Regions from separate parts of the Homo sapiens genome. Here all the other regions are reported to be linked to region 2. Evidence: microRNA targets listed by miRTarBase, many of them from high-throughput screens and not tested one by one. Region 2 holds a microRNA gene; each other region holds the end of a gene's coding sequence.
What was found. The annotated mature microRNA hsa-miR-548t-3p reads AAAAACCACAAUUACUUUUGCACCA and lies in region 2 at 1,172-1,196, opposite strand. An mRNA with a match to its seed (bases 2 to 7 or 8) in the 3' UTR can be bound and repressed. Matches are read on the target gene's strand: a 7mer-m8 pairs with bases 2 to 8, a 7mer-A1 pairs with bases 2 to 7 and ends in A, and an 8mer does both.

Region 1: miRTarBase lists SLC30A3 as a target of hsa-miR-548t-3p. Seed matches in the 3' UTR shown: 7mer-m8 at 2,187-2,193.
Region 3: the mRNA of ANKEF1 is a reported target of hsa-miR-548t-3p. Seed matches in the 3' UTR shown: 7mer-m8 at 2,040-2,046 and 7mer-m8 at 1,014-1,020.

Annotation. Positions count from the first base shown.
Region 1 is chr2:27,252,618-27,255,875 of GRCh38, forward strand. It overlaps SLC30A3 (solute carrier family 30 member 3), which reads right to left. Exons shown (of 8, transcript NM_003459.5): 8 at 1,067-2,843. The coding sequence ends at 2,695. Among named protein-coding and RNA genes, the nearest start is that of SLC30A3, 8.8 kb to the right of the region's middle.
Region 2 is chr8:123,346,026-123,349,283 of GRCh38, reverse strand. It overlaps MIR548AA1 (microRNA 548aa-1), which reads right to left and starts at 1,250; the gene lies at 1,154-1,250. It overlaps ATAD2 (ATPase family AAA domain containing 2), which reads left to right. Exons shown (of 28, transcript NM_014109.4): 15 at 1,011-1,101; 16 at 1,878-2,192; 17 at 2,534-2,666; 18 at 3,012-3,198. It overlaps MIR548D1 (microRNA 548d-1), which reads left to right and starts at 1,154; the gene lies at 1,154-1,250.
Region 3 is chr20:10,055,142-10,058,399 of GRCh38, reverse strand. ANKEF1 (ankyrin repeat and EF-hand domain containing 1) reads right to left here. Exons shown (of 11, transcript NM_022096.6): 11 at 97-2,898. The coding sequence ends at 2,740. The region is part of intron 3 of SNAP25-AS1 (SNAP25 antisense RNA 1); the gene reads left to right. Among named protein-coding and RNA genes, the nearest start is that of ANKEF1, 22 kb to the right of the region's middle.

The DNA.
Region 1 (3,258 bases), not on the chromosome of region 2:
CAGCTCACTGCAACCTCTGCCTTCCGGGTTCAAGCGATTCTCCCTGCCTCAACCTCCCGAGTAGCCAGGATTACAGGTGCCCACCACCATGCCCAGCTAATTTTTTTTTTTTTGAGACAGAGTTTCACTCTTGTTGCCCAGGCTGGAGTGCACTGATGCAATCTCGGCTCACCGCAACCTCTGCCTCCTGGGTTCAAGCAATTCTTCCGCCTCAGCCTCCTGAGTAGCTGGGATTACAGGCATGCGCCACCACACTGGCTAATTCTTGTATTTTTAGTAGAGACGGGGTTTCTCCATGTTGGTCAGGCTGGTCTCGAACTCCTGACCTCAGGTGATCCACCCACCTCGGCCTCCTGAAGTGCTGGGATTACAGGCATGAACCACTGTGCCCGGCCAAATTTTTGTATTTTTTAGTAGAGACAGGGTTTGACCATGTTTGAGACACAGTCTCACTGTGTTGCCCAGACTGGAGTGCAGTGGCACAATCATGGCTCACTGCAGCCTCGACAACCTGGGCTCAAGTGATTCTCCCCACTTAGCCTCTCAAGTAACTGGGACTACAGGTACACACTACCATGCCCAGCTAATTTTTGTATTTCTTGTACAGACAGGGTTTCACCATGTTGCCCAGGCTGATCTTGAACTCCTGGGGTCAAGTGATCTGCCTGCCTCAGCCTCCCAAAGTGCTGGAATTACAGGCGTGAGCCATCTTGCCTAGCTGATTTTTCTTTTTTTTTCTTTTTTTTTTTTTTTGATGGAGTCTTGCTCTGTCGCTCAGGCTGGAGTGCAGTTGCATGATCATAGTTCATTGCAGCCTCAACCTCCTGGGCTCAAGTGATCCTCCCACCTCAGCCTCCTGAGTAGCTGGAACCACAGACATACACCACCACACGTAGCTAATTTATTTTTATTTTTAATTTTTTTTGTAGAGACAGGGTGTCACTATGTTGACCAGGCTGGTCTTGAACTCCTGGCCTCAAGCGATCCTCCTGCCTCAGCCTCTCAAAGTGCTGGGATGACAGACATGAGCCACCAAACCCAGTGAGTTTGATTTTTTTTTTTTTTTGAGACAAGGTCTTGCTCTGTTGCCCAGGCTGAAGTGCAGTGGCATGATCATGGCTGACTGCTGCCTTGACCTCCTGGGCTCAGGCAATCCTCCTGCCTCAGCCTCCTGAATAGCTGGGACTACAGGTATGCACCACCACACCCAGCTAATTTTTAAATTATTTGTAGAGACAGGGGTTTCCCTAGGTTGCCCAGGCTGGTCTTGAACTCCTGGGCTCAAACAATCCTCCTGCCTCAGCCTCCAAAGGGCTGAGATTACAGGCACAGGCCACTATGTCCAGCTTGAGTTTGATTTTTTTTAAAGAGAAAATCAACAATCCCTTAATGAGCCTGATTTTAAGACTTAATGTGTCAAAATATGCAGTTCTTAAGACAAAGGGGGAATAGGTGTAAAAGAGGTCCTTGGTGTTCACAGCCTAAACCTGGACTCAGGGTTGGCTGCTATCAGGGTTGAGGGGTCCCTACCGCTGGACACCTTAGATGGCCTGAGAACCAAGCCCACATCAGTGCTATGGTCTAGCCATTCTCCCTCAAAGGGACCCAGCCTCCCTCCAGCCAGCCTGAGGCCCACTGGCATGCAGGGACCTCTGAGAACGACTGACTCCCAGGGATTCCTTGGCTCCTTACCTTCCAGCATTCTCCTGCAACCAAGCCCAGGGCACATGGGACTGTCCCTGAGCCAAGGACCCAGGCATGCTGTGAGCCAGGGGAAGGGGAGTAAAGAGACTGGTGGCTTTTACCCTCCATCTGAGGGTGGAGGGGCTGGGAAGGGACAGGAGGTCTGTGGGAGGTCACTCCAGAGGCTGGGAAGGGACAGGAGGGATTCTGTTGTTCTCAAGTGACCTATTTGACTTCCCCCTCCTGAGGAGTCAGCACACAGGCTGAAAGATGCAGTGAGACACAAGTTTATTGGTGGAGCTGCAGCGGAGTCCTCCCTCTTTCAGGGATAGCCAAGGGCACAGCACCAACAGAGGGATGGAGAGATAGACCCCCAAACAGACACATGGATGGAGCAGACTCATAGAAACCATAGCACAGCCACATAGGCACAGAGACACACAGGCCACAGCACCAAGAACACACACACACACACACACACACACACACACACACACACAGACAAAACCACAGGGCTAAGACACACGGACAAAGTGCGGGCTTTGGGGCCCCTGCATAGACAGAGCGAGGGCCATGTGGGGAGGGGGCCCCTACTGACCTCCCCCAGGCATAGGCACACCAACAGCACATAGACAGGCAGATGCCCCCAGCCAGCCAGCCTGCCACACAGACAAATGGACTGCAGGGAAAGGATGTTCGTGGCTCCACATGAACCATGGGGAGATGGCACCACAGGCCTTCAACACACCCTGCCACACTGAGGCCTGGGAGTCCCCGCCCCTGAACTAGTCACATCTATTCCCCTGACTCCCACCCCACTCCCCGCCACACTTTGGTCTTGCCCACTGGGGCTGGGGCTGGGGCTGAGGCTGGGGAAACTGGCAGGTGGTAGGAGGGAGAGAGGAAGGGGTATGGACCTGGCTCGGTCCCGTCTCTGTGATCAGGGCAGCAGATGCTGAGAGTCTGGGGCTGAGCCTCGGCCTGGCAGTGGGGTGAGGGCAGGGCCATGGCTCAGGCTTGGGGGGGTTCCTGGCAGCGCAGGCACTGGGCCATCTCCGGCTGATACTGCTCGACCTGCAGGGTGCAGCTGGAGAATCCAAACCGGGAGTAGAGCCGGGATGAGGCTTCAGCCAGGACGGCTTCAGGGTCAGCGGTGGAGTCTGTGGGAGAGTGATAAGAGGCGGCATCCATCCCGGGGGAGAAAGAACAGGCAGGGACTGAGATAAGGACAGGGAAAGGGGCTGCACAGCATTAAAGCCAGGCGTGAATGGAAGCCTGCTTTTCTTTCTGTATTGTATGAACAGCATAAAAGTGTCAAATCAAATGTTGGAGAGACTCACCCCAATCAACCATGCTAACACACTAAACTCTTTCCAGTCTCCTATTCTCTCCTGTCATTAAGTGTCAACATACAGCTCAACATTTCAGCAGCCATACCACCCGATTTCCCAGGACAATCCAGTTGTTAAATATCTGTCTCATTGTCCCTCTAGAGTTTCCATCAAATATCCCACAAATTATAATATTTTTGGCATACAAATTGCATGACTCTGATTGCTTCTTGCATCTGGAAGA
Region 2 (3,258 bases):
TAAGAATTTAATGTCACTCAAATTTTGACAAAATATATTGCTGTTTATTAATAATAAGTCTTGGTATAGTAAAAATTTGGAGATTCTTGAGTTTTGTATCATGGTCTTGTCAAATGATAGTAAACAACTCAAATGGGGACAAATTTTTATTCTTTTCTTTAAATATAATAATGCCTTCCCAAAATTACTCTTAAAATTATTTCAATTTGAGTGTAGCCTTTGGATGTTCTAAGTGTTGCTTCAGAACATATGGCTTAATGAGTAATCAATCCTTAGCCAGTTTGTTAGCCTTGTCTTTTTCATGAATATCATCATATAATCCTACCGAGTTTTTTTAAGTCTACTTAATCTTCTGGGAACCAAAGAGGAAAATATGTCAAGAGCTGTCTGTACTCTTAAAAACAGCTCTTAATATGCACCAGAATGAATAGCTACTTTAGTAGTTACTTTTCTCTTATTTGTGTTTATGACGAATATAACTTTAGTGCTATAAATGCAAATATGTTTAATAATGAGACTTAAGTTCATTAAACTCTTAAAAGTACATCCTTTTTCTTATTTTCACTTTCATATTTTGCTTATATTGAGTTTTTTTGGTTGGTTGTTTATGATAAAGTCTTGCTCTGTCACCCAGGCTGGGGTGCAGTGGCACAATCTCAGCTCACTGCAACTTCCGTCCCCGGGATTCAAGCAATTCTCGTGCCTCAGACTCCCAAGTAGCTGGGATTACAGGCACATGCTACCACGCCCAGCTAATCTTTGTATTTTTAGTAGAGAGTGGTTTTCACCATGTTGGCCAGGCTGGTCTTGAACTTCCAACCTCAAGTGATCCACCTGCCTCGGCCTCCCAAAGTGCTGGGATTACAGGTGTGAGCCACCGCACCCGGCCAGTATTAAGTACTGATCACTTTAAAATTTTAGATAATCAAAAGTATTTTAATCAAAATTAATGTAATCTGAATAGCATTTATTATTATAGTTGTAAAAAATTAAATTGTTTTTATTCATAGGCTCGAAAAGAGATTCTAAAGATTCACACCAGGGATTGGAATCCCAAACCACTGGACACATTTTTAGAAGAGCTAGCAGAAAACTGTGTTGGTAAACATTGTTTTAAGCAGTTAAAATAAATACTACATTTATTTCAAATATGAAACAAGTTATATTAGGTTGGTGCAAAAGTAATTGTGGTTTTTGCCTGTAAAAGTAATGGCAAAAACCACAGTTTCTTTTGCACCAGACTAATAAAGAAATACAAGGTTATATTTGTTTCTTATCTCTTATTTGTGGCATTTTCTTCTCATGAAGTCTTGGTATTAAATAGAGATATTTGACAAATTGGCCATCAGGGGCAGAGTAGATAATAATATAATTGTACAAAATACAATATATTATTATATCATAATAAGATAATAGCTATTCTTTACTGACCATTTTGTAGTCATCCTTTTAAGCATTTTACATATATTATTTCATGTAATTTTCACATCATTCCTGTGATGTAGGTAGCAGTATCTCTACAGATGAAGAAATGGCTGGAGAGCATTATGTGAATCTTCTAAGGTCATACAGCTAGTAAATTACAAACTGGAATGTGAATCTAGTCTGTGTGATTTTAAAACTCTTGCTTTTGACCTCTGTGCTATACTTAGTGCTTGTGTATTGCACTCTTAAAAGTTGATTGATTGTTGATGGCCATTACTACCCTATAAGTTTACTGGGTAAAAGAGATTTTGGTCTTATTACTCTTAAATATTTGCTAACTATATTCCGAGGCTGATTTTTAATTTTTTTTTTAACCATGGTCATGCTAATAGAGTTTTGTGTTTCTTTGTTTGGTCGGCTGGTTCTTTTCTTCCCCTGGTTGCTTTGGATAGGATACTGTGGAGCAGATATTAAATCAATATGTGCTGAAGCTGCTTTATGTGCTTTACGACGACGCTACCCACAGATCTATACCACTAGTGAGAAACTGCAGTTGGATCTCTCTTCAATTAATATCTCAGCTAAGGATTTCGAGGTAGCTATGCAAAAGATGATACCAGCCTCCCAAAGAGCTGTGACATCACCTGGGCAGGCACTGTCCACCGTTGTGAAACCACTCCTGCAAAACACTGTTGACAAGATTTTAGAAGCCCTGCAGAGAGTATTTCCACATGCAGAATTCAGAACAAATAAAACATTAGACTCAGGTATAAAACTTGATTGACCATTTAAAGTTAGTTTTTATAATCAGTAAAGTGAAATGTTTCATACATACCAGAAATATTTATTTGTAAAAGAATCTCTTGAAAAGAATTTGGTAATGCTTTACCTGGGATATTTGAAGGAAATTTACTCCATGGATTGCCCTTAATTTAACTTATTGTAAGTTTGGGGTGCATTTTTACATTTACTTATTAATTCATATCTACACAAATATTTTTGATTCTTTGAAAAAATTTAATTGAAGTATGCTGACTTGGTAACTGAAGCAATAAAGATTTGCTTTGCAATCCAAAAGTTACTAATGTACAATTTTTTGGTTTTATAGATATTTCTTGTCCTCTGCTAGAAAGTGACTTGGCTTACAGTGATGATGATGTTCCATCAGTTTATGAAAATGGACTTTCTCAGAAATCTTCTCATAAGGCAAAAGACAATTTTAATTTTCTTCATTTGAATAGGTATATTTTTCTTGCAAATCAATGTTTTTTGCATGTGTAAATTTTCTAAAAATAAATGAGATGTGGTTGAAAAAATAAAAAGTGCTAACCAATCTGCTTTTTATTTAAATTAAACTACCAGAAATTTTTTGTTGTTACAGTTGTCACAACAGTAGAAATTACAGTCTATAAAAATATTCCTAAAAACCTTTGGGGGTCAGTTTCCAGAAACTATGTGAACCATGTTATGATTGGTTGGCCTTATTGGCAAGACTTTTTACTTATGAAAGTTTATAGTTGACAATTTAGGGGGAAAATTTAAACTGTTTTTTCTAAAACATAGCTTATTAATCATTTCTCTTTCAGAAATGCTTGTTACCAACCTATGTCTTTTCGACCAAGAATATTGATAGTAGGAGAACCAGGATTTGGGCAAGGTTCTCACTTGGCACCAGCTGTCATTCATGCTTTGGAAAAGTTTACTGTATATACATTAGACATTCCTGTTCTTTTTGGAGTTAGTACTACATCCCCTGAAGAAACATGTGCCCAGGTAATTTGTTGGTGCCCAAGTATAAGACAAAACAGGCTTTCAGAGGCAAAAGCTAAAATT
Region 3 (3,258 bases), not on the chromosome of region 2:
AAATCCATGTATAAGTTTTGCCTCCCAAAAAACTTAGATACTAATAACTTACTGTTGACCAAAAGCCTTACCCATAGCATAATCAATTAACACGTATTTTGTATGTTATAAATACTGTATTTGTGCAATAAAGTAAGCTTGAGAAAAGACAACAATTGAACTCAACACAATAGCAACAGGAGGTGGCTATGAAATTATTACAGTTGTACAGTATGTACTACAGTTAATTTTATGCAGTTATGATTTATTACTGCAGCTTTACTTTTATTTACATTTCTCTCAACTGCAAATGCAGTTAAAGTTTATATCAGGTATCAACATCATGTGCCTCCTGATATGATGTACTGAGAAGGGTGCAATGACATCTGTAGCACTGCTGCCCCAAAAGCATCACCTGAATCTATTCTTGAAGACATTTAAGACAAACCAAAGTTGAGAGACATTTTACAAGATAAAAGTGGCTTGTGTTCTTCTTATATACTGTCATAAACAAACAAACAAACAAACAAACAAGAAATACAGGTTGTTCTAAACTAAAAGAGACTAAAGAGATGGGGCAAGCGAATGTATTTCATGACCTGGGAGTACAAAGGAAATTATTGGGATAAATAGCAAAATCTGAATAAGGTCTATAGATTAAATAGTTCACTTAAGTGTTAATTTCCTTAGTTTGCCAATGGTAATATTGTTATGCAAAAGAACATCGTGATTTTAGGAAATACACAATGAAATATTTAAAACATCATGTCTTCAACTGACACACAAATATGAAAACATCATGTGAAGAACATCATGTCTTCATCATGTCTTCAACGGACACACAGATAGTTCGGGGACAAAAATTAAACATACATATGCATATATGTAGAGGGAGAAAGAGATAGAGCAAATGTGGTAAGTGGTTAACATTTAGGTAATCTGGGTAAAGGGCATATAAGAATTCTTTGTCAAATTATTGCAACTTTTCCATAAATATGAAATTATGTCAAAACAAAAAGAAAAGAGAGAACAAAAAAACCAACCAAAACCTTACAAAACAGACAAAATTTAGTTGTAATAGCAAATCTTGGGATCCAAATGCAATGCTTGTAAGCAACCCCTGTTCAGGTCTGTCTCCTCCAGAGGGGTGGGCCTGGTTACCTGCTTCATTCTCTCTCTTCCCTTCTCCTCCCTAACTGGCTCCTGTGGAAGGTCCCTCCAAGGTTGGAAAGAGAGGGAGGAGGTTAGAGGAAAGGGGTTTAATCCATACGTGACTGACAGAGCTGTAATCTGCAATTGGTGCCTTCTGGTAAGGCAGATTCTAAAGTGGCTTCTTTCTGTCAATGAGACGTTGGATATTTTTGGAGCTCCTGTTCGGTACCCACTGCATTTCTTGGTGTGAATAATGCCTCAGCTAGCTTTTTACTGCAGAGTACACCTCCAGAGATGGTCAGTTTTATGACTCAACTTGGCTAGGTTGTAGCACCCAGTAACTCAATCAAATACTAATCTTAGGTGTTGTGGTGAAGGAATTGTGTACATGCAACCAATATTTACAATTCATTGACTTTATGTAAAGGAGACTGCTTTAGATAATCTAGGTGAAACTGATCCCATCAGTCGCTTTAACAACAGTTGAAATTTTCACAATCGTAATCTGGTTAGGTAAATGGATGCCTTTTATTTTAGGAAAGACATACTGAAGTATTTAGGTGTATGAACAAAACTGAGGTTTCCATGATGAAGAAGAAATTCCACTTGTGGACTTCAGGGACAGCTCCTGCATGTTTCCAGCCTGCACTTCCTGATAGCCTACCCTACAAATTTAGCACTTAACCATCTGGGGCCCAAAATTATGTAAACCAATTATTTGCAATAAATCTCTATCTATCTATCTATCTATCTATCTATCTATCTATCTATCATCTATCTATCTATCTATCATCTATCTATCTATCATCTATATATCTGTCTATCTGCCTTTCTAGCTAGCTAGATACCTAGCTGTCAGGTTGGAGCAAAAGTAATTGCGGTTTTTGCTGCAATTAAAGGTTATGGCAAAAACCACAATTACTTTTGCACCAACCTAATAGCTATCTATCTAGGGCTAGGGCTATCTATCTAGGGCTAGGGCTATCGATCTAGGGCTGTTAAAAGTGTATTCAACCCAAGGTATCTAATACACATAGTTTATAATGGCATGTGAGAAATAAACTCCTTCCTTAAAAGATTAAATATTACTTCTTTTTCCAAAACCTAAATTGTTTCATCAATTTCCACTAGAAATGTATCTTCAATAAGCAGGCTGGGCACAGTAGCTCATGCCTATAATCCCAGCACTTTCGACGGCCAAGTTGGGAGGACTGCCTGAGCTCAAGAGTTCGAGACCAGCTGGGGCAATATAGTGAGACTCTGTCTCTATTTAATAAATAAAAAGGATAATTAAAAAAATAATAAGCATAATGGTGTAGACCTGGTAAATCTTTTGACAGCAACGTTTATAACCCACATGCCATGTATTTCACTACATTCATAAAGGGGCTTGGGGATTTATCCAGAATGACATACCATTCATTTCAAAATAACATACATCTTTTCTCTAGACAGCTAAGAATATTTATAGTTGTTAAAGCAAAAAGAAATTCTTGGTAACAAGTTCTTGGTGTATGGATTGCTTTGGCTTTGATGGAAATATCTACTTTCTCCAAAGATTGGTCCCTGGGCCTCAAAGCATTTACCCCAAGAAATAACTGCTATGACTTAGGTCTTCAAGGCAGCTTCCAGTGCTCGAGCTTTCTCTGTGATGTTCTTCTGAAAAGGCATCATAAAATCGTCGAAGTCCACCTCATGTGTAAACCTCTCTCGCCGTAGTTCCCTCTTCCTGATCAGCTCTGCTGTTGTGGCTTCAGGACTCCAAATCTTAAAAAGAAAAATAGCCATACCCCAGCAGGTATGAGTATGACAGCCAGTAAATATGCTAATATCCAGACAATTTTCAATACACAGTTTTAACTTAAAAATTTGTTTATAGTTTTAACTTAAAACTATTAAATTTACTTTTAGATGTGTTTTAACTTCTTCCCCCCCTCTCATATGACACTAGTGGTTGCACGAGCATCACTGTTTTTGATGATGACTGTCTAGACAAATAATGTCGGAAATATTATTCAGTTACTTCTCTGGCCAGTTATGCTCAGACCAGCTGCTGTGCGTTTTTTAGGATGCCAAAACAGGGAAGCAAAGGAATTAGAAGATCATCTAGGTTTACTACCTATATGT